Linked DNA regions of Homo sapiens. The protein of the gene in region 1 interacts with the protein of each later gene in a pairwise test. Each region holds a gene or a part of one and is shown on either strand. Other genes may lie near its edges. The genes, in order: VSTM2L and CCM2.

The links.
Region 2: the proteins of VSTM2L (region 1) and CCM2 interact in binary tests that used the Homo sapiens proteins (3 or more experiments, as listed by UniProt).

What each region holds. Positions count from the first base shown.
Region 1 is NC_000020.11:37,893,342-37,909,844, forward strand, and holds the start of VSTM2L (V-set and transmembrane domain-containing protein 2-like protein precursor), read left to right. Parts: upstream 1-9,785; 5' UTR 9,786-10,009; coding exon 10,010-10,130; intron 10,131-13,277; exon of another isoform or gene 13,278-13,820; intron 13,821-16,503.
Region 2 is NC_000007.14:44,990,100-45,006,282, forward strand, and holds the start of CCM2 (cerebral cavernous malformations 2 protein), read left to right. Parts: upstream 1-10,101; 5' UTR 10,102-10,234; coding exon 10,235-10,264; intron 10,265-16,183. UniProt on the Homo sapiens protein: Component of the CCM signaling pathway which is a crucial regulator of heart and vessel formation and integrity. May act through the stabilization of endothelial cell junctions. May function as a scaffold protein for MAP2K3-MAP3K3 signaling.

The DNA.
Region 1 (16,503 bases):
GCCACATGCAACCTTGAGGATACAGCAGAGAATGAGAGTGTTGTTTTTGCCCTTATAGAGCTTATGGACTGGTAGGGGAGATAAACACTAAACAGCTAGGTGCACAACTACTTATTTGATTAAAATTGTGGTCAGGTGCAGTGGTGCACGTTTGTAATCCCAACACTTTGGGATGCCGAGGTGGGAGGATTGCTTGAGGCTAGGAGTTTAAGACCAGCCTGGGCAACATAGCAAGACTCCATCTCTACAAAAAATAAAATTAGCTGAACATGGTGGTGTGCACCAGTGGTCCTAGGAAGCAGAGGTGGGAGGATCGTTTGAACCTAGGAGTTCAAGGTTACAGGGAGCTATGATTGAGCCACTGCACTCCAAGGCAGCAGAGAGGCAGAGCGAGATCTGGGTGGCAGAGCCAGATCCTTTTTTTTCTTTTCTTTTTTTCTTTTCTCCTTCCTTCCTTCCTTCCTTCCCTCCTTCCTTCCTTCCTTCCTTCCCTCCTTCCTTCCCTCCTTCCTTCCTTCCCTCCTTCCTTCCTTCCTTCCTTCCTTCCTTCCTTCCTTCCTTCCCTCCTTCCTTCTTTCCTCTCTGTTTCTTTCTTTCTCTTTCTTTCTTCTTCCTTTCTTTCTCTTCCTTTCTTTCCTTTTCTTTTCTCTCTCTCTTTCTTTCTTTCTCTCTCTCTCTTTCTTTCTTTCCTTTCTTTCTTTCACAGAGTCTTTTTGTCCCTCAGGCTGGAGTGCAGTGCAGCAGCTCAATTTCAGCTCACTGCAACCTCTTCCTTCCAGGCTCAAGTCATCCTCCCACCTCCGCCTCCCAAGTAGCTGGGAATACAGGCACGTGCCACCACGCTTGGCTAATTTTTATATTTTTTTTGTAAAATCTAGGTCTCACTATATTGTACAGGTGGGTCTCAAACTCCTGGGCTAAAGCGATCCTCCTGTCTCGGGCTCCCAAAGTGCTGGGATTACAGGCGTGAGCCACTGTGCCTGGCAAGACCCCATCACTTCAAAAAAAAAAGTGACCAGGATGATGGCTGTTACTGCTGCTGCTTCCACCACCCTGGCACTGGGGCCCTGCTTCCTCTCTGAAGCTGGAGAAGGCTGGGCAGCCCTCAGAGGCTCCCTCTGCTCTGCAGCAGGAAATCTCAGGAAGACGCTGTCACCCAAGGGGAAAGCAAGGAGGATTAACCCCTGAGGCTGCAGGCATCCTTGAACAAGCCCAGCTTTACCAGCCACCTGGGCAGGTCCTCCCCAAGCCTGAGGCCCTGTCTTCTGCCTGCCTCCACCTGAGGGCTCTGATGGCAGAGGCTGGGGGCAGTGGACCTTGGTCCCAGCCACTGTGTGACTTCAGCCCAGCCACTTCATCTCTCTGAATCTTCGTGGTTTCAGCTGTAAGATGGAATGAACAGTCCCATCCTTGTCACGAGGATTTGGTGAGATAAATCCTGGTGTCTGGCACACAGGAAGCGCTCAACAGATGCTCATCCCCTTCTCCTGTGTGGGGTCCATGGAGATACTAGGCCCAGGCCTCCCTTAGAGGCATCTAGCTCTGTGCTGTCCGCTATGGTAGTCATGAGCCACACGGACCATTGAGCACTGAAAATGTGGCTGTCCAAAATTGAGATGTGCTTTAAGTATAAAATGCACACACCAGATTCTGGTGGCTTGGTATGGAAAAAGGAACGTAAAATATCTCAGTAATAATGCTTTATATTGATTATGTGTTGAAATGATAATATTTTTGATATATTGGGTGACATAAAACAGATTATGAAAGTTAATTTCACCTGATTGCTTTTACTTTTTTAAAATGTGGCTACTAGAAAATTTAAAATTACACAGGTGGCTCGCATTTTACTTCTGTTGGACAGCATCGGCCTAGCTAATTACTCACAACCATGGAATATTTAGACTGGCATTAACCACGCCATTAAAGTCAGTTCAGGATTTTAAAAACACTCCTACAAGCAGGGCCTTGTAATTGGCAGAGACCCTGCTGTCCCGCGGTGTTTAATAAGCACTTGGTTTGCAGGGTGAAGGGCCCTAGGAACCCCTCCCTGATGCAATTAATTGCCTTTGATGGGGATTGTCATTAGGCTTCTTGCTGGGACAACACAGATACGAGCCACATGTACTTACTGGCCTTGGTAGAGTGCAATTTGTGGGTTTAGGTTCAAATCTGAGGGCCAAAGCCTGGAGGGATACTATGGGCTGAATGTGTCCCCCAGATTCATATGTGGAAGCCCTAACTCCCAATGTGGCTGTACGGTATTTGGGGTAAGGAAGTAAATAAGGTTAAATGAAGTAGGAAGGGTGGAGCTCTGATCTGATAGGATTAGTGTCCTTATAAAAGAGACAATAGATATTAGGCTGGGCACAGTGGCTCAAGCCTGTAATCTCAGCACTTTGGGAGGCCAAGGCAGGCAGATCATTTGAGGTCAGGAGTTCAAGACCAGCCTGGCCAACATGGTGAAACCCCGTCTCTACTAAAAATACAAAAATTAGCTGAGTGTGGTGGCAGGTGCCTGTAATCCCAGCTACACAGGAGGCTGAGGCAGGAGAATCGCCTGAACCTGAGAGGCAGAGGTTGCAGTGAGCTGAGATCACACTACTGCACTCCAGCCTTGTCTGAATAGAGTGAGACTCTGTCTCAAAATACATAAATAAATAATAAATAAATAAATAATGAGAAGAGACACCAGAGAACTCCCTTTCTCCCTTCCTCTTCCCTCTCCCACCCTCTTCCTCTGCACATACAAAGAAGAGGTCTTGTGAGCACACAGCCAGACAGCAGTCACCCCCAAGCCAGGAGAAGAGGCCTCAGAGTGAAACCTATCTTGCTGGCACCTTCATTTTGGACTTTCCAGCCTCCAGAACAGTGAGAAATAGATTTCTGCTAATTTCTGCTTAACCAGTCTGCAGTGTTTTGTTACAGCAGCCTGAGCAGACTAGGACAAAAGGTTCTTTGGGCCTCGGAGAAGTTCCCTCTTTGGGAAGCCACAGAGCTGGATGTTTTTTGAGGAGCTGCTTGGCTGCACAGGTGATGATGGATCCTGTCTGACCTCCTCAGGCAAGTGGCATGTGGAAGAAGGACCCCGGCCTAGAGTCAGGAGACCTGGGTCTTTGGCCTCGTTCTGCCATTCCCTCACTGTGAGATCCTAGGCTTCTCTCCATGTCTTTCTAGACCTCAGTTCCTCTGTCTGCACAAAAGGGACATGAGGATTGATCTTTGATGGCCTTCTCCGTTAAAAATTAGAGATGCTGGCTGGGCATGGTGGTTCTCGTCTGTAATTCCATTCGCCACAGTGGGAGGATCGCTTGAGGCCAGGAGTTGAAGACCAGCCTGGGCAATATGGTTAGACTCCTATCTCTACAAAATATTTTTAAAATTATCTGGGTGTGGTGGTGCATGCCTGTAGTCCCAGCTACTCGGGGGCTGAGGCGGGAGAATTGCTTGAGCCCAGGAGTTTGAGGCTGTAGTGAACTGTGATAGTGCCTGCCACTTTACTCCAGCCCGGGCAGTAGAGTGAGACCCTGTCTTAAATAAATAAATTAAAAAGATGCTTTAAATTTAAGTTTTAGGTTTTAGATTATGTCTTCACTCTGTGTGGTCCACTTAGACCGGAATCCAGAAGAAAAATGTCAGGGACACTCCCTAGGACTTCTGGCAAAGGCAGGAGCCAGAATGAATGAATTTCCTGTGCCCAGGCCCCCCTGCTGTCCCTGGCTCCTAGCCCTTGGCCCAAGCATGGCTCTCAGCCTAGACAAGGCCTTCCTAGGAGGCCTAGGAGCCCTGCGGGAGGCAGAGTGCAGATAAAGGCTCGGAGTCCGTCCATGTGGAAAACCTGGGTCTGCGGCGATCGTGAACCACATGGGCAGAGGGGCCAGACCTGGGGTTCCTATGATGGGAACATGATGTGACTGTGGAGGCCAGTCAAGGCTCCTGCCAGCGGTGAGTGGAACAGATAAAGAAATCAGTCATCAGAGGAGAGAAGTACCCCAGACCGGAGTGGGAGGTCACATATCGGCTCCCTGTGCTGCCCTCCAGAGGGGAACTGGGGCAGAGGGGCCTCCTCATTCCACGAGGCTGGCTGGGCTCAATTCAAGGAACCCTTGTCCTCCCACCTCTGTTGGAATCCTCACTGCAGCCCACTGGATCCCTGCACGAGACACACCTGGGGTGCTTAGTGAGCAGGCAGATTCCCAGATACCCACCCCGAAAAGCCAGTCTGAAAGAGAACACCCAGGGGTGGGGCCTGGCCACAGCCAGCCTCTCCAGAGAGTCTCAAGTCCAGTAATATCTAATAACTCTGTGTTTAGGCCAATGGTGTTCAATCCTAGCTGTGGACTGTGATCACCTGGGGAATTTTTTTTAAACCCTGATACCCAGATCTCACCTAAGACCAATTATGTCAGAATCTCTGGGGTGTGCCCTGGGCACCCATATATTCTTAAAGCTCCCCAGTCGTCCCAGTGTGGGTCCAAGGACTGCCCCAGCTCCAGATCAATTCTAAGAGCCTCAAGATGAACATCTGGGGAAAAGGAGAAGTCATGAGTCTCAGATAAGAGAAATAACTTGCCCAAGGTCACACAAGGTGGTGATGGCAAAGCCCGTCCTGAAACCCAGGCCTCTTTCCTGACCGTGGGCCAATTTCTTCCTGATGCTGCATCTCTTTTTAAAAACCAGAGCCCAGGCAGGCAATGCCCACAGTATTTCACTTTAATAATATTGGAAACCGGTACAGTCAGGGCCACCACAGTGGTGGGGCGGGAGCCTCGATGGCGATTAGGGGAGCTGTAAGTCTTTCGCTTTATCCAAATCTTGGGCAGTAATTTAGAAAATTTAATTAAAGGGGGAGAAATGGGGACACCTCGCGCTCCCTGCCTCCTGTTATAATGAGTGAAATACACCAGGCTGTAAAAGGAAATGCTGTCTGAGACGCAGCTCCGATGTTTTATTGCCAAGTTTTATTCACTGATGTAAACGTAATCGCTGGAAACCGGAGCTCTTATTAACACACATATTTTCACACATCCGGGGCCCCTCCTGCTCCCCCCTCTCCCTCTGGGCTTGTTCACCCACCTCCTAGGGTCAGCCCTGCTGCTTTCTGGGCATGTCTATGCCAAGCCTGGAGTTCCGCACCGGTTTCATACCCTCCCATGGCAGATAAGACTTTAATAGAATTCCATTGCTCCTCAGAGCTCAGTAATGCATTCTGGAAATTAGGCGGCTACATACTAAAGCCATTGTTCCCCCTTATAAATGGGCTCTCTCAAAGCCAGTGACCATGGGGGCTCTGATAAGCTCTCATGAAGCCTCACTCCACATGTTATTGGTGTGCTAAAAGGTGCAACTCCAGGCTTACATTGCTCATTGTTAGGGGCTGATACATTTAAGTAGTTTCTCCATGAATCAGGCAGCCTAGGTATTTCCCCCACTCTTGGCATTGATAGATGAGCAAAAGGAAGCCATTTAGATGGTGCTATATAGGGCTCCAGCCCACGTGGTGAATGATTTCCAATGCCTGGTTTAATTTATTTTTAAATGAAATTTGTTATTGATTCTGGATTAAAAGGACAAATCTTACAGCTGTTACCACTGACAGAGCCACAGTGCTCAAGTGACACCTCTCAAGGAGGGGAGGGAGGGTGGCCTGTCTGAGTCAAGGGGAGGGTATGGAGACTCTCCAGGGAGCTTGGCTCAGCAGTAAGGGGCAGTGCAAGATCCCATGCTTAGAGGGAAGTTTAAAAATATCATCTTTCCCAATTGAAATACTTGACGTGATGCTCACCTCTGAGCCTCATTTATATAATGGAAATAGCAGTGATATTTGCCTCATGGCATCCACACGACCACTAGAGGCATGTTAGTTGCCTCCAGGGATGGGAGGCTTTCCATCTCCTGCAGCATTCCCAGAATGAAATGAGTGACAGGCGTCACCCACTCTAGTGAATTCCTAGAGACTGTTTCCTGGGCTAGTCTTTGCTTACCTTCTGCCTCCACTAGGCTCTCGGCTTCCACGGTGCCCAGAGATTACACTTGCATTGGGAAGCAGACAAGAGGCACAATTACACAGGGGAGGAGGATGGGCTGGGATGTGTCCGTTCACATTCAGCCTCTGCCCTACCTCACTGTGCAACTTTGTGCAGGTTACATCATCTTTCTGAGCTTTGTTTCTCCATCTGTAAAAGAAGGAAGGGTATAATAGCAGCCTCAGGGGTTGTTGTATGAATTATAGGAGATCATGGGTGTGAATGTGATTTGTAAACTGTAAAGTGTAGTTTAGGTGCTGCAGGAAATACAAGTGGGACAGTACAGTATAGTGGGAGGTCTCTGAGTTGGGAGACAAAGGACCTGGATCCAGTTCTGTCATGAGTGGCTGTGTGGCTCTGAGAAAGTGAATTACTTTCTCTGGGTCTTAGTTTCTTAAGGTGCCAAGAGGGTAGGTTGGAATCAAACATATGAAATGTTTGATTGGCTCTGGAATCAAACACATCATGGCCTTGCTATGTCGCTTTAGGCAAAATACCTAACCTTTCTGAACCTATGTCCTCATCTGTAGATATCAAGAACACTAGTCAACATGTATCATGTATTTGCCATGTGCCTGGCATTGTTCTAAGTGCTTTCCATGTAACAACTCATTTAATCCCCACCACCCTGCTGTGAAGGAGGTATTATTACCCTTGTTTTACAGACGAGAAAATTGAGGCACAGGGAGGCTAAGCAACTTGTCTAAGTTTACACAGCTACCAAATGGCAGGATTCAAAACAGAGAATATGGCTCTAGAGCCCACACTTCTAACCACACCATCCTACCCTACCTGGCCTGGTGGTTCTGAGGATTAAGGGGAATAATGAAAGTTCTTAGGGCCATGCTGGGCATACAGTGATGAGCCAACAGAGGCTTGGGGACTGGGAGAAGGCAGCAGGCATTTCTTCCCATGGGGACTCAGGCTGGACCTCGCCCAACTGGGGACTCAGCTAGACAGAGGGGAAGGCATACAAGCACAGGGGAAGCACTGGGAAGGTTGAAGATGTAATGAGGCCAAGGCATGCCCAAGAGAGCACAGGATATGTGCAGGAGGTGAGTCTGGGACCCTGAATGCAAACTAGAGAAGTCAGGATTTCTCACATAAACAGGCCATCAGAGGGTTTTTTTAGCAGAACCATTATATCATGAGCATTTTCTTCTTTTTTCCTTTTTTTTTTGAGATGAAGTCTCACTCTGTCACCCAGGCTGGAGTACAATGGTGTGATCTTGGCTCACTGAAAACTCCGCCTCCCAGGTTCAAGCGATTCTCCTGCCTCAGCCTCCTGAGTAGCTGGGATTACAGGTGCCCACCACCACTCCTGGCTAATTTTTGTATTTTTAGTAGAGATGGGATTTCACCATGTTGGTCAGGCTGGTCTCGAACTCCTGACCTCGTGATATGCCCACCTCGGCCTCTCAAAGTGCTGGCATTACAGGCGTGAGCCACCACACCTGGCCGATCACGAGCATTTTCAAAGGCATACAATCCCTGGATGTCTGTCCTTGAAGGAACCTTGACCTTGTTCCAGGCTTCAAAGAGAAAAGATTTCTGAAGGTCAGCCGGTGGGCTAGGGGCACAGCAGCAATGTGCTGCCATCCCGCCAGACCCCCTTCCTCTGCAGGCCTGAGCAATCTCTTGTTTACTCCTCTTTAATCTCCTCTCCCTCCCTGTCCCCTTGCCTGTGTCTGCTCCCTCCAATCTGTGGTTTAAGAGGAGAAAGCCCGGGTTTGAGTCCCAGTTCTGTCACCACAGTCTCCTGGTGAGGCCTCAGGCTGGGGTTGAAGGAGTCCTGGGTTTTAGTCTGGCTAACATGGTGGCTGCTATGTGATCTGGAGGATTCTCAGTTTCCATATCTTTATGATGGAAGCAGTAGTTCATTTCGCTGGGAGCGGGGTTCAGGGTAGTTAATGAATGAGAAAACACGTGCATAGAGTCCAAGACGCCTGGCCAGCCCAGGATAACCTAAACACCACCTCTGTGTGGGAAGAAAGTGAGAAGTGAGAGAATCAGGCAAACACGGCCCCTTCCTCCAAGGCATGTGGTCCAGAAGGTTCGGGGGGTGGGGGAAGCGGTCGACGCTTGGGACCTGTCCTCGGTACTGAAGGGAGCGCGGGGGCTGTGGACGGTGCTAGAACACAGTGCTTGTAAGTGCGGGACATCGTGGAGGAGGTGTCCTTAGTTTGGAAGGAGCTGGATTGTTGCTGGCTACCACGGGCCCCATCCGGTGTGCTACCCCCCCCCCATAATACTGGAAGGGGGGCGCTAAGACAGAGGGAAGACGGCGAGGGGCTATGTTCCTTGGTCTCTAACCTTGTTCTCAAACTTGGGCGCTGTACACACGGCTGGACGCGGGATCCACCTGTGTTCTGGAGTGGGGAGTGGGCTGTCGGAGGGGTTGACCCTGTTCGACGGGGACGGGGAAGAAAGTCTGAGGGTCTGTCCACGGTGTGAACCCTAGCATCAAAGGGCCAGTTGAGACGCTGTCCACGGTGCCCAAAGGATGGGCCCGGGTGGGGCGGGGGGCGGGGGGCGGGGGGGGGGCTGGCGCTGTCCTCCTCCGTGGTGCTGAAACCGGGAGGACCAGGCTGTGTGAGCAGGGAGGCCTGGGGAAGGGCAAGGGATGAGAGCAGGAGGGACCCCGCCCAGGAGTCAGGGGCCTCGCCCGACTCGCCGTGGGACCTCAGAGAAGCTAATTACCTGATTTCAGGCGCTTCCTTATCTTTTAAATGGGACCACAGTTCCGCCCTCCTGTCTGTCCCATCAGCCCCAGTAACACGGCTTGGGAAGGAACTGGAGGACTTTGTTGGATTCTTGCTCTTGGGAATGGGAATGGTGCCCTATCCCCCTCCCCTGCCACACTCACACACACATACACCCACGCATACGCGCGCGCACACGCACACGCACACACACACTCATGCACACACACACCATCAAGGCTCATTGGTCTAGGGAAGGAGCCTACAGTCCAGAAGGGGGCGATCCCATCCACCACATAAGGTCCAGTATCTTCAAGAGCCAGGAGCCGCAACAACTAACTGGCCTGTCTCTCTCCCATTACAAAGACTCGAAAACTGAGTCCCAGAAAGGGGAACACCGACAATAATAACTACTGAGCTCCTACCACGTAGGCAGCATTATGCTAAGCGCTTTGCATGCACGATTTCGCAAATCCTCACCAGGACCCCCGCAGACAGCTATTACCCCTATTTCTCAGATGAAGACTTCGAGGTTCAGAGAGGGGTAGACACCCGGACGCGATCACACAGCGAGCCGAGGTCGGCGGCAGAGCTATCACCAGGTCCCCTGGGTCTCAGCCCAGGCTCCCACCCTACCTCGCCCTCACCCCCAGCCCCACTGGCCCCTGACCCCGGCCCCGCCCTGCCGGTAAAGTTAGGAGCCTCTGAGTGCGCTGGCCTGGCGGCGGGTGCCCTGGCTTTTCTCCCTCTCCCCGCTGGACGGCATTTCTGTGGCTGAAGCCCGTTGGGTCGTGCTTTGCGGGAACCGCGTCCCTGGGGTGGCTCTCTCCGCCCCATCCCGGCCCCGCCTCCGCACTCGGGCGGGGGAAAGTTGCGGGTACCGCTTTAAAAATCCCAGCCTGGGCAAAACTTTGATGATAAATCAAGCGGCAGATCCCTCCGCCGCCTGCTCCGAGCGGGAGGAGGGAGGGGAGGAGGGAGGGGAGGAGGGAGGCGGGAGGAGGGAGGAGGGTGCGGCGGCGGCGCGGCGTGGCCTTCCGCGGAAGGGAAGAGTCCCGCAGTCGGAGGCGGCCGGCTGGGCGTGCGCTCGCTCCCCGAAGCCGGGGCTGGGCCGGAGCCGGGCGAGGGCTGGGAGCTGGGCCGGGTCCGGGGACAGCGGGCGAGGGGCAGCTGCCGGAGCCGGGCAGCCAGGCCGCTCAGGGCAGGGGACAGCTGGCGCCGGTTCTGCGGTCTCCGGGGCCCAGATGTGAGGCGGCGGCGCCCCCGGCCCGAGAGCGCACGATGGGGGCCCCGCTCGCCGTAGCGCTGGGCGCCCTCCACTACCTGGCACTTTTCCTGCAACTCGGCGGCGCCACGCGGCCCGCCGGCCACGCGCCCTGGGACAACCACGTCTCCGGCCACGGTGAGTTCGGTCGCCGCCCCCGCGGACTTCCCCACCAAACCCCAACCCGGGCCGCGCCACTCCAACTTGGCCGCCCCGGGGCTCGAACCGGCGCCAGTCGTGGCGGGCATCCCGGGGCGCCCCCTGCCGGCGCGGTGGACCCGCCCTGGCACCCTGGCCCTGCAGAGAAGGGGGCACCCGGGGCGCACCCCCGAACCTCCTCCCCACACACTCGCGCGGATACGCACACCTGCATGGCCACACCGATATGCACAGCCGCGGACACACTCAGAGCCACAGTCGCTGCTTTCTCACACTCACAACTCCTACCCTGCACATCTCCACACACCTCAGGTCCCCCTCCTCACTGCAAGCCTTTACACTTATGCCCACTACACACGCACATCAGGCACTGCGCCGGTGGGCTCACTCTGCCAGCTGGCGCACACGCTTCGCCACAACTCTTGCCTGCCCACCTGCAGACACACTGGTGCGCGCGCGCGCACACACACACAGGCACACACATACACACACATGAACACAATTTGCTCACCCACTCCTCTCTGCCCATCTGCCTTTACTCTTCTGGGTTTAACCGCACAGAGGCCCTTGTCCTCTTCCTCTCCACACCCAGCCCTATACCACTGGAAAGGTCCTTGGGGGCAGAAGACCTTGTTTCTTGAGAACTGGTCGCCTGGGGCTGCAGCCTCCCAGTTGGGCGGGTGGCACCTGGTGGAAGCCCCTCAGAGCCACCGGAGTAGTTGGGGTTGCTGCTTGCAGCCAGAGGCATGGGAGTGGGAGTGGAAGTGGAATGCCGGGTGCTTTTGTCTGCCTCTGGGGATGGGCAGGAAGCCGTGCCATCCTTCCATAGGGTACCCCCATCCTCATCCTCGGCCCTAGAGGACTGAAATGTGGGAAATCTCAACTCCAGCCGCTGTGGAAGCCGGGGAGCAGACAAGCATTCCCAGCACTGGCTGGCTGAGTGTCAGAAGCTCCTGCTAGCCCCGAAGGAGCCCAAGTTGGCAGCAGAGTTGGACTGTATGAGCCCGGCAGCTGTGGGGGCTCCCCCTGACCCCTGTGAGCCTGGCTCTGGGATGGAGGCTCGAGCATAGATGAAACCAAAGGAGACCTTTCTTCCATGCAGCCCTTCACTAGACAGGCTGACAGCCTTGTTGGGGAGGCTGCAGCCCCAGTGCTGGGCACTGTGGGCCCAGGGCTGTGGGGAGGTTTGCACAAAGGCCAGATAATTGGATGATTTATTCTGATGGGAGTGAGTGGGGGTAAGGCAGGGTAGATAATCAGGGAAGGTTTTGCTGGGGTATGACACATGAGTGGGATTGCTCCAGTGGAGAGGGGGGCTTCGAAGCCATCCTCAGGGTCTCTGCTTTTTGGGAACCATGACTCCCCGCCCCCTTCTGCCTCACCATGTTTGGTAGTAACTGCTGTGTGCATCATTTACATACCCTTCATGCCCCTCACCTCATTTCTACCGACCTGGCTAGAGCGGTGGTAAATAAGGAAAGGGTTCTTTTGATCCTCAACTTACAGATAGGGAAACCAAGGCTCAGAGAGGTGAAGGAAGTTGCCCAAGGTCACACAGTAAGAGAGTGACTGAGCCAGGACAGGCCCCAGGGTCTGTCAGGCAAAGACAGCGCTTTTTTCCAGGACATTCATCTCCCTGTCAGATTCCCTCCCATTCTAGGGAAACTGGGAATTCCTCCCTCTCCACCCCTCCTCTCCTCGCTCCGCTCAGTCCCTTGGCACAGTTGGAACTTACACTAGGAGGGGTTTCCATGGAGGGCCTTCCCTGAGTTTGCAGTCCCGAGGGGTATGAGGAATGGGACTCTGAGGCTTATGGTCGTTCTGTCCCTAGAGCACCAGACCCCAGGGACTTGGGTGCCAGTCTGTTATTCCCAAGGCCCCAAGGTGGCTCCCCCCCATAGAAAAGCAGGGTCTGTCTGCCCTTTGTGTGACAGTCTCTACCTGTCCCCTGGTGCCAGGTAAGCTGAGGGGGCACAGCTCTGCCCAACCAGCTGTAATCTCCCCTCTGCACCCTGGAAGGTCAAGCTAAGGCCCAGGACAGGGGCTAGATGAGAAGGAGGCACCCCTAGTTGCTGGGGAACCTGGCTTCTCTCCTGAAACCCCCGTGTGGCTCTGGGCAAGTGAGCCACCCCTCTGGGTCTCCCTGTGTCCCTAAAGAAACAAAGAAGCCAGGCTGCTCTGCAGGGGCCAGGCTGCCTTCCCCCGACATTGCCAGGTTCAAAGTCACCAAGTAGTGACTGCCGAGGAGCCCCCACAGCTGCCCCTCTGCCGTGCCAAGCACCCGCCACCACAGGAAGGGTTTGGAGCCACTCACTTAATCACAAAAAGAAACTGTTATTAATGATAGTGAGACGCGGCGAATAAGTGGGTCATGTCTAATAAGCTATTTGTGTTCAGGAGGAGAATACCAATTTGATAAAAGCTGTGTGTGCTGAAAAAGCTCAGAAATTGCTGTTTAGCAGATTGGGGCCTGATCATTTCATTATTCCTGGGCTCCGTGTGTCCTCAGCTGATTCAGGAAATGTGGCCCAGTCGGGAAGGTGTCTCTGTGTCTGGGGGTGGGGGGTGGGGGCTGGAAGCAGGGGCTCCTGGGGAGGGGCACATTGACCCCAAGTGCTTGGTGGCTGCTCACCCCTCCAACTCCATCTGAGCCCAGCCCGGCCGCCGGGCTCCTGCCTTCCACCTGCCTGCCCTGGAGCTTGTCACAGGGAAAGCCTGCGGTCAGATGGGTCAGAAAGGACATCTGTTTTGCTTCCCATCTCCCTCCCACCTCCACTCAAGGTACTTGGAAGAGGGCTTTTTCGAGGTGTGAGGAATGAATGGGGAGCATGTATCTCAAGGAGGCATCAGGCACTGGGAGGTGGGGTGGTGATGGTCCGTGTCTGCACCTAGTAGGTGCTCAATAAACAGGAGTGATTTTGATTTTTTCTTATCAGAAAATGTTAACTCATTGCCCATGGGCACAGCAGGGATGGGAGGAAAAGGTGCAAGCATTGATGAAATGCCTACTGTGTGCCCCGTGCTGCCAAGCCCTTGCCAGTGTTAACTCACTCAGGCTGACCATTCATGCAAGGTTGGTGTTGGAGATAGGAGGAAACTGAGGCTCAGAGAGGGCCAGTGACTTACCCAAGGGTGCTGAGTCTGTACAGAGAGCTGGAAAGCTGTGTTTAAGATGAAGATGCATCTGGCAGCTCTGGGACTGCCTCCTCCAGAACAGCCTTGAGGCAGGCTTGGCCATGGCGTCTTCCTTCTTGTAGCCGTAACCCAAGCTTTCTCCCTTCTAGCTCCTCAGGGAACCAGTAAAGCAGTGGGTTCCACCAAGAGGAACCAGCCACTCAGAAAGGTGGCAAGATCTTGCTGAGGATACCTGTAGGTTAGAAACAGGCAGCTGGACTGGACCCCAGGATCTTTCCAGATCTTGTCCAGGGGAGGGATCCAGAGGGCAGGGTCTTTGTGAAGATCTCTGTAGACCCCTACAGCTTGCAGAGGACCCCTACAGCTTGCAAGAAGCCTCACATGGCAGAGTCCCCCAGGGAATTTTTTACAATGCAGATCCCCCAAACCCGCTGCCAGAATGGTTATTTGATGGGACCCTGGAATGTACATTTTATTATTATTTTTTAATTTCTCTTGAGACAAGATCTTGCTCTATTGACCAGGCTCGAGTGCAGTGGCACAATCTCAGCTTACTGCAACCTCTGCCTCCTGGGTTCAAATGATCCTTTTACCTCAGCCTCCGAGTAGCTGGGAGTGACAGGCATGTGCTACCACCCTCAGCTAATTTTTAAATTTTTTGTAGAGATGAGAGCTCATTATATTGCCTAGGCTGGTCTTGAACTCCTGGGCTCAAGCCATCCTCCCTCCTCGGCCTTCCAAAGTGCTGGGATTACAGGCATGAGCCACCGCATCTAGTGGAATCTGCATTTTAATAAGTTCCCCAGAGGATTCTCATGCAGCCTGGGATTTGGAAGCCACTGCCTAAGTATTTACCCATACCTGGTGGGAGATGTAGGGACAGGAAATGTCTGACGCTATGGACTGGCTTGGTTTGGTTTCACAGGGGAGGGAGAGGTCCAGACAGGGGCAGGTGGATGGTCCCTGAGAGGAGCTCCAAGAAGCCTCACACTGCAGCAGACAACTCCCCTCCCACCCCCACCCTGCCACACACACACACCCCTACACACACACACACCCACACCCACCCCTAGGCCAGCACCTTCAATTATTCATATACCCCAGTGCAGACAAAGATCCTGGCTTGGCCGGGGGCTTTGTCCATTGAGTGATTCACTGTCCTGAGATTCTCTCTGTTGCCAGGAGGGACCAGCAGGGTGCTGGGGGAGGGAGGGGGCACCGGGCCATTTGGCAAGCAGCCTGTGCACTGAAAAATGACTCTGGCTTCCTCGCATTCCTTACTGAACTGTTGGTATCTCACCATCAATAAGCTGGCTAGTTTGGTGGCTGGAAGATGAAGAAAATTGAGTCCTGTCTTCCAAAGGTTATGATGTTAAAAATGTGTTCGTCTTTGTCTCGGGCGTTGGTGATTATTCTATCAATTACGCCTGTAAACACTCTGCCTTGGGCTGAGGGTTTCCCGGCCTCCTGTGGGGAATTGGCCCTCACAAGCGGTTTTCCCCAAGTCCTTCACACCAATTGGTTTTGACACCTTGCCCATCAGCAGCTCCTGCAGCCTTTTCCCCAAACAAGAGAAGCCGCAGGCGGCCAGCAGGACGCAGGGAATTTGGCTCCTTGCCATGGTGACAGCAAGGATGGTGGGCAAAGTCGCCTGCGGCAAACAAGTGGGCAGGGTGAGGGGAGTCGGGTAAGTGACCCCTTCTGATCCACCGGCTGTGGGGGCAGGAGATGGAGCTTTTGGAATGAATCATGGAGGCCCCTTGGGACCATCGTCCCAAGCCTCTCTCTTACAGATGAGAAGACAGAGACCCAGGGGCAAGGGAGAATTTGCCCAGAATTGCCCTGGAGGGTACTTCTTGGCTTTTGGGATTACCTCATCCAACTCTGTACAAATGGAGAGATTGGCTGGGCACGGCGGCTCATGCCTGTAATCCCAGCACTTTGGGAGGCTGAGGTGGGTGGATGACTTGAGCCCAGGAGTTTGAGACCAGCCTGGACAACACAGTGAGAACTCATCTCTACAAAAAAATAGCCAGGCATGGGTACGCACCTGTAGTCCCAGCTACTCAGTAGGCTGAGGCGGGAGGATCACGTGAGCCCAGGAGATGGAGGTTGCAGTGAGCTGAGATCGTGCCACTGCACTCCAGCCTGGTTGACAAAGTGAGACCCTGTCTCAAAAGTAAATAAATAGATAAAAATAAAAAGAGGAGAGATAAACATATGGAAGCAAGTGTGTGTTGAGTGCCATGCCAGGGCCTTGAATGGTATCATCTCATTCAATTCTAACGAGAACTCCAAGAGGAAAGACTGTTTCGGGCCCACTGTTTAGATGAAGAAAATGAGACTCGGGGAGGTTAAGTGGCTTACCCAAGGTCACACACCTACCAAGTGTCAGAGGCTGGACTTGAACTGAAGAATCTGGCTTCAGGGCTGGGAGTCCAAGGAAAGAGGAGGAAGAGGCCCACGTCACACAGAGGGGAAGAGCAGGGCTGGGACTTGAGGCTTGGCTCTGGGGTGGAAGGAGTGCAATGGCCTCCGCATTCCACACCCAGGAGGGCGAGCAGCAGTGGGAACAGAATGCTATCCCAGCGACCCTCCAACTTCCCTCGATTTTCGAAAGCATGGGGAGAGTGTGTAGTGTGAACAGCGGCACAGGTGCCCACGTGAGAGTGTTTGGCCATCACCTTGGACTTTGGGGACCAAACCAGCTGCTGATGGTGTTGTGGGAAGACTCTCTCAGTCCTGAAAGGAGTTTGGGGCCCGCTGGGCACACTGGGGTCAGATTCCCTTGTGTCCTGGGACCCAGGACAATGCCCGGCCCAGGGAGGTGGCAGGGAATGAATGAATGGATGACGAGGAGGACGAAGCAGGGGATGAGGTCTGAATTCTTAAAGCTTTGCTCATTCCAAGTCAATATATTTTTAAACATTCAAATGATTTTAATTTCTTAAGGAATCTATGTTTATAGGGGGAAAAAATCACAAAATTGGAGCCCCCTCCTTATCCCTGCTGAGCAGAGCAAGGACATCCTGGAGTGGGCAAGGCTGATGGCACCTTGCAGTGGGTGGGCCCAGGCTCTGGCCTTGGGGTGCATATGTGATGCTGCAGCCATGAGGATGGGGGAGTCCAAGGGTCGCGCCCTTCTCCCCTGACCCTGATGAGGCACTTGCATCAGAAAAAGCAGCAGTGGTCCAGCTGGGGAAGAAATCTGCTCCTC
Region 2 (16,183 bases), on another chromosome or scaffold:
CTCAGAAAAAAAAGAGAAGGGGAGATGCTTACTTATTATCAAAGTAATTAGAGGCCAGACATCGTGGCCTGTAATCCCAGCACTTCAGGAGGCTCAGACAGGAGGATTGCTTTAGCCCAGGAGTTCAAGACCAGCTTGAGCAACATCACAAAACCCGTCTCTACAAAAAGTTTAAAAATTAGCCAGTCATGGTGGCGTCCGCTGATAGTCCCAGCTACTCAGGAGGCTGAGGTGGTGGGAAGATCACTTGAGCCCCAGAGGTTGAGGCTGCAATGAGCTGTGATTATGCCAATGCATTCCAGCTTGGGTGACACACCCAGACCCCGTCTCAAAAACAAAACAAAAAAAACAAAATCTGAAAGGATGCCAAAACATAAAAATCACATTATCAGTTTAATTGTGATTTTGCTGGGAAACTGCATGAGACTGGCACAAAGAGAGAAACATGACAGCAGTATTTTAACTGCTTATCAGAATACTAAAAATAACTTTCTTCAAACCCACATCTCAAATGAGTAATTCCATTGTTCTTCCAGGCCAACTAGTGACGCACGATATTTTTCTTCTTAGTTCAGCTAAAATCTGGGCTCTTGTCTCCCGATCAGGAAAAATTAGGCACATGGACACATTGAAGGGTCAGAATGTATTAAGTGAAAAGAAAGCCCTTAGCAAAGAGGTGGTCCTGCCAACAGGCTCCTACTCCACAGACTGAATATCAGGCCACCATACTGGAGCTGAAGAAGCCCGGCTCCCCTGCATAAAGCATGAATTCCTGGTGGCTCCACCCCATTTCCCCAGTGCACATGTAGGCCTCTAATCTGAGCCACTCCACACTGATTTATTTCCCTTACTGCACATGTGTTAAGGGATAGAATTTTTCACTGTAGGCATGTTTAGGCAAGCCCCCTGTGCATAATGACCTGGATGGCATTTGGCTGTCTCCCGCCTCTATCAGTAGCATATTTAGGGGAGGAAAGATGAATTTTCTTGCTACCCTTCTAAATTCTCAGCTAGAGTCCTTGTAACAAAAGATAGATTTTTTTTTTTTGAGACAGGGTCTCACTGTGTCTCCCAGGCTAGAGCACAGTGGTGCTATCATGGCTCACTGCAACCTCCACACCCCCAGGCTCAAGTGATCCTCCCATCTCAGCCTCCCAAGTAACTGGGACTACAGGAGCTTGCCACAACACCTGGCTATTTATTTATTTATTTTTGAGACAGAGTCTTGCTCTGTCACCCAGGCTGGAGTGCAGTGGCATGATCTCGGCTCACTGCAACCTCTGCCACCCGGGTTCAAGCAATTCTCCTGCCTCAGCCACCCGAGTAGCTGGGATTACAGGCGCTTGCCACCATGCCTGGCTAATTTTTGTATTTTTAGTAGAGGCGGGGGTTTCACCATCTTGGCCACGCTGGTCTTGAACTCCTGACCTTGTGATCCACCTGCCTCGGCTTCCCAAAGTGCTGGGATTACAAGTGTCAGCCACTGCGCCTGGCCCTAATTTTTTAATTTTTTATTTCGTAGAGATGGGCTCCTGTCATGTTGCCCAGGCTGATCTCCAGCTCCTGGGTTCAAGCAATCCTCTTGCCTTGGCCTCCCAAGATGTTGGGATTATAGGCGGGAGCCACCATGCCCAGCTCAAAAGATTAACAGGAGAAAAACAAATGGAGCTATATTAACATGTATACTTTGCATATACATGTGAGATGCCCAAGAAAATGAGTAATTCTCAAAGGAGTGGCTTAGAATTCAGGTTTAAGTACCATCTTCAGCTAAAAACAAAGAAGGGAGTGAGGAAGGCCAGTTTTGGGAAAAAGACCCGGAGAAGCACACAAAACAAGTTGCTGCCTTCTCCATTGATAAGGGTCTCTGGTGATTTAGAGTCAACTTTCTCTTCCTGGTACAGAGAGGGAGACACCCTTACAAAGAGCGATTTCTTTTAAGACTGTGAGTTTCTCTTTTTTTTTTTTTAGTATTTATTGATCATTCTTGGGTGTTTCTCAGAGAGGGGGATTTGGCAGGGTCATAGGACAATAGTGGAGGGAAGGTCAGCAGATAAACATGTGAACAAGGGTCTCTGGTTTTCCTAGGCAGAGGACCCTGCGGCCTTCCGGTGTTTGTGTCCCTGGGTACTTGAGATTAGGGAGTGGTGATGACTCTTAACGAGCATGCTGCCTTCAAGCATCTGTTTAACAAAGCACATCTTGCACCGCCCTTAATCCATTTAACCCTGAGTGGACACAGCACATGTTTCAGAGAGCATGGGGCTGAGGGTAAGGTTATAGATTAACAGCATCCCAAGGCAGAAGAATTTTTCTTAGTACATAACAAAATGGAGTCTCCTGTGTCTACTTCTCTCCACACAGACACAGCAACAATCTGATCTCTCCTTCCTTTCCCCACATTTCCCCACTTTCTACTCGACAAAACCGCCATCGTCATCATGGCCCGTTCTCAATGAGCTGTTGGGCACACCTCCCAGACGGCCTGGCGGCCGGGCAGAGGGGCTCCTCACTTCCCAGACGGGGCGGCTGCCGGGCGGAGGGGCTCCTCACTTCTCAGACGGGGCGGCTGGGCAGAGACGCTCCTCACTTCCCAGACGGGGTGGTGGCCGGGGTGAATTTCTCTTTCAAAGGGGTAGCTTATGCTGTTTTCATAGCTTCTGTTTCTCAAAATTACTAGCTCAGAATAATCCTTAGGCCAAGGAGGCATATTTTGGGGTGGCATATTCTGGTCTCCTACAGATGTATGCCTGAAAAGAAAATTAGCAATTTGGCTCTAGAAGAATAAACAGTGTTAGCTAATGAGATGTCAAAATGGAACTTGCAAGGTTGCTTCCGTTGGGGGCCACACAGTGTGGCTGTATTTCTGAGGGGTCATTCTGATCCAGAGTTGATTTGGTCCTTCATGATTTATAGGCCTGGAAACTGGATATTAAAATTCACTGATAGTTCACTCTAATCAACTCTGAAGTGTCTTTCCTTCACTAATGAAGTCTATATGGTTTTATCATGTGCACAACAGTCAAAGTGTTGCATGTCATACGTCAAAGAATAACTCAGAGAAGGCCAGGCGCGGTGGTTCATGCCTGTAATCCCAACACTTTGGGATGCCAAGGCGGGTGGATCATGAATGAGGTCAGGAGTTCGAGACCAGCCAGGCCAATATGATGAAACCCTGTCTCTACTAAAAATACAAAAATTAGCAGGGCGTGGTGGCACACGCCTGTAGTCCCAGCTACTCGGGAGGCTGAGGCAGAAGAATCGCTTGAACCCAGGAGGCAGAGGTTGCAGTGAGCCAAGATTGTGCTACTGCACTCCAGCCTGGGCCACAGAGCGAGACTCTGTCTCAAAACAAACAAACAGAAATCAGAGACATCTAGTTAGTTATTTGCAAGCCAGTTCTCATATGAGGGAGACAACTGATAGACTCAAGGACAGATGGCTGAGAGGCACAATAAGAAAACAACTGCAGTCAGTTTCGAGACCAGTGAAAAGATTCACTTAAAAAAATTGGCTGGTTGGCTGGCTGCAGTGGCTCACACCTGTGATCCCGACACTCTGGGAGGCCGAGGCTGCTGGATCACCTGAGGTCAGGAGTTTGAGACCAACCTGGCCAACATGGTGATGGTGAAACCCTGTCTCTACTAAAAATACAAAAATTGGCTGGGTGTGGTGGTGCATGCCTGTAATCCTAGCTACTCGGGAGGCTGAGGCAGGAGTCACTTGAACCCAGGAGGTGGAGGTTGCGGTGAGCCAAGATCATGCCACTGCACTCCAGCCTGGGCAATAGAGCAAGACTCTGTCTCAAAAAAGAAAAAAAATTGGCTGGAAGGCTGGGCACAGTGGCTCATGCCTGTAATCCCAGCACTTTGGGAGGCCAAGACAGATGGATTGCATGAGTCCATGCGTTCAAGACCAGCCTGGGCAACATGGTGAAACCCTGTCTCTACAAAAAATACAAAAATTAGCCAGTGTGGTGGTGTGCATCTGTAGTCCCAGCTACTTGGGAGACTGAGGTGGGAGGATAGCTGGAGCCTGGGAGGTTGAGGGTGCAGTGAGTTGAGATGGTTCCACTGCATTCTAGCCTGGGTGACAGAGTGAGACCCTGTCTCAAAAAAAAAAAAAAAATTGGCTGAAATCTAGCAAAAATGCAAATCTGGGAACACTGTCTTTGAATAGGCCAATTAAGTGTAAATTTTCAGTGTTTAGGGGTTTTCTTAAAACCAGGGAAACATTACCTGAACAGGGCCTAGCTGGGAAGCATCTATGAGAAACTATGTTCAGGTAATGTTGCCAGTGCCCCTCCACCTCAGTCTGGCTCAGTGTACATAATTTCCCTTATTAGAGTTTATTTCAGATACAAGGAGGAATCCCACATAGTCCGTACCTTCAAAGGAGCTTATTCTAGTAGAGGAAATGTCCTAAACCTGGTTAACTCTAGCATCACAGACATACAGATACAGTTATCTGGAAACTGGAGGAGGGAAAAATTGCATCCAGAAATTTAGTGGAAGATGTGATTATTGAGCTGGGTCACAAAGCTCAACAGCCAAATTCACCAGCAGTCTAAAAGACTTGGGTTTAAGCCAGGCGCGGTGGCTCACACCTGTAACCCCAGCACTCTGGGAGGCCGAAGCAGGCAGATCACGAGGTCAAGAGATCAAAACCATCCTGGCCAACATGGTGAAACCCCGTCTCTACTAAAATACAAAAATCAGTTGGGCAAAAAGATTTGGGTTTATTAACCTACCATGACCAGGGAGAGCACCCCAGAGGAAGAAGGGCTGCTTCTCATTACGAGGGAATAGGAAGGGGACTTTGTAAGGTTTGGGCTGGCCCTGAGTAATTCTGAAGAGGGGACAAGGGGAAGTGAGTATCATGGCTATAAAGTTGCTTTCATGAAGTGTGGGCAGTTTAGTAATTGGGTACCTTGGTCGCTTTTGTTCAAGATGTAGGAGCCACACAACAGGCTGGGGAGGTTATTGGTAAGAAAGCAGTAATCATAAGTAGGTGGCTGTTAGGACACTTTACAGCCAAGGTGTGACCTGGAGAGAAAGAAAAGATTGTTTTATGTTATAATTGTCTCATTGGTGTCTGTTACGAGAGACTGAATATACAAATAGACAATGGCTGGACCATTTGTACAACTAGAACTCTGACTGACAACCTGCAGAAACCTCCTCAGGAAACCAATTCGTTATCTACAGCAACCAGCCCAGGAAACAAGCCTGCTGTAAGTCATACTTGCAGGAAGCCAGGTGTTATCTCTAGTGACAATCCAGGAGTAACTTTTCTAACAGCCCCCAAAGCCTAGGACTTAATTAATAACTGGCACCCTATCTCTCACCAGATACAAAAATCAACTCAAAATGGATTAAAGACTTAAACATAAGACCTGAAACTACAAAACTACTAGAAGAAAACATAGGGGAAATGCTTCAAGACATTGAACGAGGCAAAGATTTTATGGCTAAAATTTCAAAAGCATAGGCAACAAAACCAAAAATAGACAAATGGGACTATATTAAGCGAAACTAAAAAGCTTCTGCACAGCAATGGAAACAATCAACTGAGTGAAAAGACAACCTTTAGAATGGGAGAAAATATTTGCAAACTATTCATGCGGCAAGGGACTAATATCCAGAATATACAAGGAACTCAAACAACTTGACAGCAAAAAACCACAAATAATCCATTAAAAAGTGGGCGAAGAATCTGAGTAGACATTTCTCAAAAGAAGATGTACAAAAAACAAATAGGTACATATAAAAAAATACTCAATATCATGAGTCATCAGGGAAATGCAAATCAAAACCACAATGAGATACCATTTCACCCCATTTAGAATGGTTATTATCAAAAAGGCAAAAAATAAGGGTGTTGGCGCACCTGCAGTCCCAGCTACTTAGGAGGCTGAGGTGGGAGGATCCATTGAGCCCAGGAGCCCAGCTCCTTAGCTCAAGCTGCGGTGAGCTAAGATCATGCCACTGCACTCCAGCCTGGGTAACAGAGGGAAGCCCTGTCTCTAAAAAAAAAAAAAAGACAAAAAATAAGGTTGAGCGTGGTGACTCAAGCCTATAATCCCAGCACTTTGGGAGGCTGAGGCGCGAGGATTGCTTGAGCCCAGGAATTTGAGAGCAGCCTGGGCAACATAGAGACCTCATCTCTACAAAAAGTAAAAAAATTAGCCAGGTGTGATAGCAGACACCTGTGGTTCCAGCTACTGGGGAGGCTGAGGTGGGAGGATCTCTTGAGTCTATGAGATCAAGGCTGTAGTGAGCAGTGATCATACCACTGCACTCCAGCCTGGGTGACAGAGTGAGACCTCATGTCAAAAAAAATTAGTATATATACACAATAGAATACTATTTGGCCATAGGAAAAAAAAATGAAAATGTCATTTGCAGCAACATAAATAGAGCTAGAGGTCACTATGTAAGCCTGTAATCCCAATACTTGGGAGGCTGAAGTGGGAGGATGGCTTGAACCTAGGAGTTGGAGACCAGCCTGGGCAACATAGTGACCTCATCCCTGTAAATTTTTTTTTAAACAAAAAAACAAAGACAAGTATTGCATTTACTCACTCATATGTGGGAGCTAAACAAATATTCATCTCATTGAGATAGAGACTGGGATGATAGCCACCAGAGGCTGGGAAGGGTGTGTGTTGGGGGAAAGTAGGGGGCTGAAGAGAGGTTGGTTAGCGTGTACAAACATACAGCTAAATAGAAGCAATAATTTCTCATGGGTGTGTGTGTGTGTGTGTGTGTGTGTGTGTGTGTGAGACAGATCTGGCTTGTTGCCCAGGCTGGAGTGCAGTGGTGCAATGACAGCTCACTGCAGCCTCGACCTCCTGGGCTCAAGGACCCCACTTCAGGCCCCTGAGTAGCTGGGACCACAGGTGCACACCACTATGCCCAGCTAATTTTTGTATTTTTTGTAGAAGAAGGATCTCACTATATTGCCCAGGCTGGTCTCCAATTCCTGGGTTCACGTGATCTTCCCAGCTTAGCCTCTCCAAGTGCTCGGATTACGGGTTTGAGCCACCACACCCAGCCTAAATTCTAATGTTCCATAGCAGAGTAAGATGACTATAGTTAATAACAATGTACTGTATATTTCAGAATAGCTAGGAGAGATCTGAAATGTCTCCAACACAAAGAAATAAGTGTTCAGGTGACGAATATCCTAAATACCCTGATTTTATTATTACACATCATATGCATGTATCAAAATATCACATGTATTTTGGCCGGGTGCAGTGGCTCATGCCTGTAATCTCAGCACTTTGGGAGGCTAAGGTGGACAGATCACATGAGGCCAGGAGTTCGAGACCAGCCTGGGCAACATGGTGAAACCCTGTCTCTACTAAAAATACAGAAATTAGCCGGGCGTGGTAGTGGGCACCTGTAATTCCAGCTACTCCGGAGGCAGGAGAATCGCTTGAAACTGGGGGGTGGATGTTGCAGTGAGCTGAGATTGCACCACTGCACTACAGCCTGGGCAATACAGAGTAAGACTCTGTCTCAAAAAAAAAAAAAAAAAAAAAATTAGCCTGGTGTGGTGGTGCATGCCTGTAATCCCAGCTACTTGGGAAGCTGAGGCAGGAGAATTGCTTGAACCTGGGAGGCAGAGGTTGCAGTGAGCTGAAATCATGCCACTGCACTCCAGCCTGGGTGACAGAGTGAGACTCTGCCTCACACACACACACAAATCACATGTACCTCATAAATATGTACAATTATTATGTGTTAGCTGGGTGCGATGGCTCATGCCTATAATCCCAGCACTTTGGGAGGCTGAGGAGGGAGGATTGCTTGAGCCTAGGAGTTTGAGACCAGCCTGGGCAACATAGTGTGACCTTGTCTCAACAAAAATATACTAAAATTAGCCAGGCTTGGTGATGCGTCCTTGTAGTCCCAGCTACTTGGGAGGCTGAGATGGGAGGATTGCTTGAGCCCAGGAGGTTGAAGCTTCAGTGAGCCATGACTGCATCACTGCACTCTAACCTGAAGGACAGAGTGAGACTTTATCTCTAAAAATACAAAAGAAACAAAAAATTATTTGTCAATTAAAAAAAAACTGGCAGCTTTCCTAGTTTTCGGTCCTGCTTCCAGCTTAGGAGCAACCAGAGAAAGACAAATATGTGCCCCTAACCAATCACTTGGGATGCCCTGCCCCTTGCTTCCCCAGGCCAACAGCCTCAAATGAGGACATCCCTGGAGGCTTCCCTTTTTTCACTATAAAGCTTACCCACTCCTCTGCCTGACATTGAGTCTCATCCAAATACAAATGATGGTGGCTGACTCCCTTGTTATAGCAAGCTAACAGCCTTTTTGCTTTTCTCATTTTATTGTCTTTATTCCCAGTTATCACCATCTGATCATTAGCCAGTGGACTTTTGCTTGAAGCATGAACCTGTGTATGCAAAGACAGGGCAAAGGTATTCTGATGGATAAGAACAGCCTGAGGAAGTCAGCACATCCAGAGTTAGGCTAAGAGAAGTTTTAGTAGTGTTGTTTACTGTATTATGGAGTGATAAATATGCATTTGTGGAAGACGGTGGAAGACTTTAAATATCAGGCCTTTGTTCTGTGAATGGTGGGAAAATAATGACAACCAGATGCGCTACATCATTTGCGTGTGTAAATGTGGCAAGCTGGATTATTGCAGAAGGCAGATTGAAAGGGTGTTTCCACTATCTCTGCTTTATCTTGCAGAGAATGGAATACTTATGCCTTTGGAGAGGTCTAGAGACCAAGTATTTCTTTTGAATATCAGTATAACATAGGCCCAGTCAGGAGACAGAAACACAGTAAAGAAAAGTTTAATATAAAGAATTATTAGGCCGGGCGCGGTGGCTCACGCCTGTAATCCCAGCACTTTGGGAGGCCGAGGTGGGCGGATCACCAGGTCAGGAGATCCAGACCATGGTGAAACCCCGTCTCTACTAAAAATACAAAAATTAGCCAGGTGTGGTGGCTGGCGCCTGTAGTCCCAGCTACTCGGGAGGCTGAGGCAGGAGAACGGCGTGAACCCGCGAGGCAGAGCTTGCAGTGAGCCGAGATCCACGCCACTGGCACTCCAGCCTGGGCGACAGAGCAAGGCTCCGTCTCAAAAAAAAAAAAAAACCACCAAAAAAACACAGTTTACATTCTAGCTGTGCTACAAAGTTCTTACCGGCAGATTGGTTTAGTGGCAAAATAGCAGACCTGCTGGTGACTCCAATTTGTAGTGTGCTTTTGGGCGAATCACCTCATTCCCCGGACCTCATCTGGAAAATGTGGAAATTATACCGGATGACTGGTAAGGTTCTACGATTTTATTCTGATAGGGTCTGCACATCCTTGTGGTTGCACTTCTATTTTCCAAATGTGTTTGTCTAAGGCAGGCAGACTTTATAACAGAGAAGTACTAGAAAACGGATTCCCTGTGGCTCAGGGAATAAAGTGGGACACAAGAAAAAAGAAAACCGCACCGCACCCAGACTCTCGGCGGGACGCCCCGCCCCTCAACAGTGGCCGCCTCCTCGCGCCCCTCCTTCGCCATCTGCCGGCCGCGTCCCCTCCCGCCGGCCCCCGTCCCCCGTCCCCCGCCCCCCGTCCCCTTTTCAGAGACCTGAGCTCCGCCTCCCTGGACGCGAGGCAGGCTGGGAAGTCGGCCGCCGTAAAGATGGCGGCAAATTGAAAAAGTTGGAGCTGCTCCCGCGCGCGCTCCCGCGCGCGCTGAGTGGGCGGAGCGAACAGGGGGCTGGACAGGTGCGTTCTCGCGGCCGTGCAGAAGCGAAGTAGGGGTAGGAGCGTTTCCGGCTCTCCTGAAGGACGCGGGGCGGGGTGGGGGTGGTGCAAGGCAGGCGCGTTCTCGGCCGTCCTGAAGGGGCAGGATCTTCAGCCTGTGGGCGGTGCTCTCGCCGTGAGCGGGGCCAACGGGCCGTGTTCTCCCTGAAGGGGCGGGGTCTGATCGCTGCGGGTCGGATTCCCTTGGGCCTGAAAGTGAGGATGAGCGACAACCGTGGGCGGGGCCTGCGCTGGGGAAGGTGGGGCCTGGGCGGGGCGGAGGGGGCTCGGGCCCGGAAGTGCGGGTGTGGGGCGCGGCCGGGGCGGAGACTTCGGGCCCGGCTGGCGGGCGGCGCCGGGAGCGCGGGGGCGGCGGGCCCGGGTCGAGCATGTAGCGGCTGCTGGCGGCGGGGCTCCCGGGGCGGGCCGGGCGGGCCGCGGGAGCCGCACGCGGCGATATGGAAGAGGAGGGCAAGAAGGGCAAGAAGGTGAGCGTGCGCGGGGGCGTCCTACTGCTGTGGTCGGCGGGCGGCTGGGTTGAGGGGCCAGGGTGGGGTGGGCGGGTGTTCCTTGGGGCCCGGGGGGGGGGGCAGTGGGCCAGCTGGCGGGGCGGGGCGGGGCAGGGCGAGACCCCGGACAATGGTCAGGTGGGCTTTCGCGGCCGGGCGGGCAGGAAGCGCCGCGCCTTTCCTCTGGCCCGGGCAGCGGCTCGCCCCGACCTCGGCCCCAGACGGCCTTCCCTGCGCGTCGGGACCTGGGGCTGCAGAGGAAGTGGGCCCGGCGAGGGGCCAGAAAGCTGTCCAGGGCTGGAACTGGAGCTAGTGGGCTGTGTGGTTAACGTGGAGACGTTTGCTGCTCACTGGACTTCGTTTTTGGATATCCAGTAAAAGCAAGGGTGGCCTTCACCTTATGGCCAGCTCACTCGTCCACTATCACTCAGACCTAAAACCATTGATTGATTTTAGTGACGCTAGCTACATTTGGCAGTGGGATTTAGGACATAGTTCATAGTCAAACCCCAGTTTATGTAGTTTTACAAAATGTGGCTTTAATTACAGTAAAGGGTTATAGTAGTCGATAAAGAAACATTTTAAGACTGGAAAAACGATGTGGATTGAACTACCATTAAAGTGGAAAATGGATTTTAATAAAATGTATCTTTTTCAAATAAATGCTTTATAATCTTCACGTCTTGGCTATCATTTTCTTTTTGATGTGTGTGTGCGCACTTTTATCCACAAGTTTAAAGCAGACCTCGATAATTCCTAACTATGATTTTACTACCCTGAACTCTGCAGGGAAGTGTCCTTTAATTGACAGCTACTCACCACCTTGTTTGACAGAGTGCCCCATTTAAAAGTCCTGTTTGAAATAGAATGTAGCCAGGTGGCCTTCAGGGAGTCCTGTGGTGCTGGTTCTCTACTTTCTCAACTCATTGTTTCATGTTAGCACCATGCATGTCTAATTTAGGTGCAGTATAATTTGCGGTTATCTACAAAGATGTTTTAAGTCTGGAAAATAGCTCAAGATAGTGATTCAGCCTGCAGGTGTTAGATTAGAGATGCGTGCTGCGCACAGAAGAGGGAGGAGCCAAGCAGTGTAAAAGGAGTTAGCTGGAAAGGAGAGGTGCTAACCCGGTGGCTGCTTAGTAGGGACCATCAGGCCCGAGTGTGGATGATGCTGAGCTTTGCGGAAAGTGAGCCATGTGCTCTGTGGAATGCCGGGATCCAAGAGCGCGCTAAGGACTGATGACCTCATTGTGCACCGCTTACAGGAGTACCTGGCCCATCTACCTGTGTGTGATAGGCAAGGATGGAATTGAGTGATTTTTTTTTCTAGAGCTGTCTATCAGCTTTGGTAGAAACATGAAACACCCAGCAAATAGGGAGAGAGAGAGAGAAGCAGTAAGACTGTTTTTGGGGTACAAGTGAAAAAACAGTAAAATTATCAAGAATTTTCCAGTTGGGTAATGAAAAAATTTAGGCATAAACAGGTTAATTATTAATTTCATTTTCTCACTAGAGGAGATAATCAGTTGTTATGTAGTTGCTTAAGCCAGGGGTTTTGTGTTTTTTCTGTATTCTGCCACTTGTCTTAGCTTGTTTCCTGTAGACAAGCCAGACAAGGAGCTTTGGGGCATGGATTCTTCTCCAGGTCATGACTTAACACTACCTCGTGTACTCTGCCAGTTGCAAGCTGGCAGAACCTTCCTGCTCAGCTACCACATTCAATGTGAGATCACCTCCAGTTTAATAACTTCGGTGGTTAAATCATTCTCATTAAGGTAAATTGCATTGCTCTAAACTTATACACAAATTCAGACATAAGTAGCAGAAGTGCTGACAATAGTTTTATGAAGGTACAGTTTGGACGCTTAAATTCTTCTAAGTTAGCTTCTTCAAAAAATGCAGAATTAGGCTGGGTATGGTAGCTACGCCTGTAATCCAGCACTTTGGGAGGCCAAGGCTCGATCACTTTAGCTCAGGAGTTCGAGACCAGCCTGGGCAACATGGCAAAACCCCATCTATACAAAAAATACAGAAATTAGCCAGGCGCGGCAGCGCTCGCCTATAGTCTCAGCTACTTGGGAGGCTGAGGCAGGAGGATCACCTGAGCTCAGGTGGGCCTTTTTTTTTTTTTTCTTTTTAATCTCAGACACTTGTCTTGGTGTCTGCCAAGCAGTGATTCAGGCTTTTTTTTACCTCGGCCCATTTTCCTCAGGACACAGGAATCAGTGAGTTGGCAGAGAACCTATGGACCAAAGTGAGTCTCACGGAAACTTGGCCCCAGTGTATCACTGCCCTTTCTCAAGTCACCTCAGCACATGTGGTGATGATGACTGTACACCTGGGTTTCCTCAAGTGGGCCATGGTTCGTTTAACAAATGTCTGTTGAGCCCCTCTTGTGTCCCATGAAACTCACTGGGTGATGGGGATACAGGAAGAGCTTGTGGCCCCCAGGAGCTGATGGGGAGATGGATCACTCATGGGTCCATCTGAAGGAATGAGTGCATTGACAGAAAAGTCCTCTGGCCACTAAAGGTGTGGGGCCTGGGGAGTAGAAGTGACCACTTGGGGCTGCTCTTCTGTCCTGATGTCTACAGAGTGTCTACTTTTTAGCCTACAAGTTCTGTTTTGGGGTTTGGAGAATAAGGCTCCTACCTACGGTATGGACTCATGTTCTGTGCATTGTGGCACTATGTAATTCCTTTTTTTTTGAGATAGAGTTTCGCTCTTGTTGCCCAGGCTGGAGTGCAATGGCACGATCTCAGCTCACTGCAACCTCCGCCTCCCGGGTTCAGGTGATTCTCTTGCCTCAGCCTCCCGAGTAGCTGGGATTACAGGCGTGTGCCATCATGCCCAGCTAATTTTTGTATTTTTAGTAGAGACGGGGTTTCTCCATGTTGGTCAGGCTAGTCTCAAACTCCGGATCTCAGGTGATCCACCCACCTTGGCCTCCCAAGGTGCTGGGTGGCTGAGCCACCGCACCTGACAGTAATTCCTTTTTATTAGAAACTTGGATGCACTTAAGTTGGGTTGTGTGGATTTTTATACTCAGATCACAGCCCAAAAAAGCTGTCTTGTCAGGGTTGGGTGTAGGTAATCCTAACACTTTGGGAGGCCGAAGCAGGCGGATCACTTGACACCAGGAGTTTGAGACCAGCCTGGCCAGCATGGTGAAACCCCGTCTCTACTAAAAATACAAAATTAGCTGGGCGTGGTGGCATGTGCCTATAATCCCAGTTAGGAGGCTGAGGCAGGAGAATCTCTTGAACCCGGGAGGTGGAGGTTGCAGTGAGCTGAGATCATGCCACTGTACTCCAGCCTGGGCAACAGGGCAAGACTCCATCTCCAAAAAAAAAAAAAAACCATCTTGTGGCCTTAACCTTGTGGGTCTCAGCTTCTCTGCTGCCTCTGGTCTTCGGTTGCCCCACCAGGTGGCTATGATTTCACACTGATCAAAGTTAAATATTTTTACATTCATCTAGTTTATTTGCATTGTTTAAGGTAGAAAAAGGTTATAGGTTGAGTGTAGTGGCTACGCCTGTAATCCCAGCACTTTGGGAGACTGAGGTGGGAGGATCACTTGAGCCTAGGAGTTTGAGATCAGCCTGGACAATGTAGTGAGACCCTATCTCTACAAAAAATAAGAAAATTAGCTGAGCATGGTGGTGCATGCCTGTAGTTCCAGCTACTTGGGATGCTGAGAAGGGAAGATCGCTTGAGCCCTGGAGGTCGAGGCTGCAGTGAGTGTGATTGTGCCACCACCTGAGTGACAGCAAGACCCTGTCTCAAGAAGAAAAAGAGAAAAAAAAGGTTATAAAGTTCCCTAGAAATGTAGGACTAGATATTAAATAATAAATAAGGAATTATTAATTTTGTTGGGTATGATAATTAAGTTCTGATCTGATAGGCATGTATTCTGAGATATTTGTAGGTGAAATAATATGATTTCTGGGATTTGCTTTACTCAAAATAGAAGAAACAAAGGGGATAGCTGAATGCTTTGGTAATGGTTATATATTGTTCTGTCTACTTTTATGTATTTTTGAGAATTTCCATAATAAAAAGTGGAGGGGAAAAGATCCTCTAGGTTACAGGCCCTGAACTATCAGCTGCTGTAGTCACTGCTGGACCAGTGTCTGTGAGGAACTGAAAGCTTGGATTGGACCAGTACCTTTTAAAATTTGGTCACTGCAGGCACCAGGAAGCCATACCTTCTCCATGCTGACCTGATGCAGACATAAATGTGTGTGTCTGTATAACCGAAGTGAAAGTTTAAAGGAACCACACTTAAACGCTCTGATTTTTTAATTCTATTTTTTTTTCTTTCTATTACAACTGGTGGTTGGCCAGGTGCGGTGGCTCACACTGGTAATCCCAGCACTTTGGGAGGCTGAGGTGGGTGGATCACCTGTCAGGAGTCTGAGACCAGCCATGGTGAAACCCCATCTCTACTAAAAATACAAAAATTAGCTGAGCGTGGTGGTGGGGCCTGTAATCCTAGCTACTTGTGAGGCTGAGGCAGGAGAATTGCTTGAACTCGGGAGATGGAGGTTGCAGTGAGCTGAGAATGTGCCATTGCGCTCCAGCCTGGGCGACAAGAGTAAGACTCCGTCTCAAAAAAAAAAAAAAGGCTCATGGTCATGACCCACTAAACCGATTCTATAACTGTCACAAGCCATACTTGGGTTCAGAAGGTGAATTGGGGCTGCTATATTTTGTTTTATTTTTCCTCTTGGGTAGCTATTGCAGTGATTCTTGGATGGCAACTTGGTAACTCAGGGTCAGGAGGCTGGAGAACCAGGCAGGAGGTGCTCAGCAGAGAACCTAAGGCAGCCAGTAGGTGAGGCCAGAATGATCGGCAACATAAGGCTGGTTACTTTTCTGTCTTGAAGAGTTACCATTTACATAGTATGTATTTGTTAATTTTCAACATATTGTCAGATTCTGTCATAATTTAGATTCAGAAAGCACATCAGAACCTTCCAGGGCTGCTCTGAGCATCCTTTCAGAGGAAGATAGTGTAAAGCAAAACGTTTCTCTTAGCAATATTATTGCAGTGAAGGGCTTCCCTGCAGACGAGAAGGGCGTCTGCAGTCTGCCCCACTGGGGCGCTTACTCTTGATCTTCCAGTTTTTTCATTTCCGTCAGCAGTGCCCCCTCCTTGTTGTCACTTTGCAGTGTAAGTAAATGGTCATGATTAAGTCCTATAAACCTAACTATTGAGCATTTAAATCACCCTCTATTGTTGGTTTACGTGGTGGCGATACAAGTTTTTAGTGAGATAACTTGGTCATGCCTTGCCTATTATGTGCTTAGCCCACTGAGAAGAGGGTTAGGGACATTGCACTTTGGAAAGTAGGTCACTTACACCTAAAATTAGAGACTAAAGGCAGACCTAGGATGTCAGAAGAGACATGGGGCAGGCAGCAGCCACTTCCAGCCAGGTTGAGACCGGGACTGTGTCCTGCAGTTCAGAAGCAGAGATGAGGTGGAGAGGACCCCCCAGTCCTGGGAAGTCCTTGGGCTGGGAAGTTGGGTGTTGGTTCTGTATGCACTTGAAGCCACTGGAGGTGTTCCACATCATGCATTCACTTGTCCATTAAACTATTGTTTATTAGCACCAATGGTGTCAGACACAGATGCTGGAGACTGAAATGTGTACGGTGAGCCTGTGGCTGCAGAGCAGGAAGTGGAGCCCGGGGATGGATGGTGGGAGCAGGCTTTGGTAAGAGTGATCAGGAACACCTTTATGAAAACTTCAAAAGCAAATGTAAAGAAAAAAAATCATGTAACGAAGTCCCCTGTGCCCATGTGTGGGCAGTCAGTTTCATGTGCACCTTCTCCTCATTCCTGCTTCCTGCCTGTGTGGGCCGAATAGTGTCCCCTCAGAGTCATGTGCTG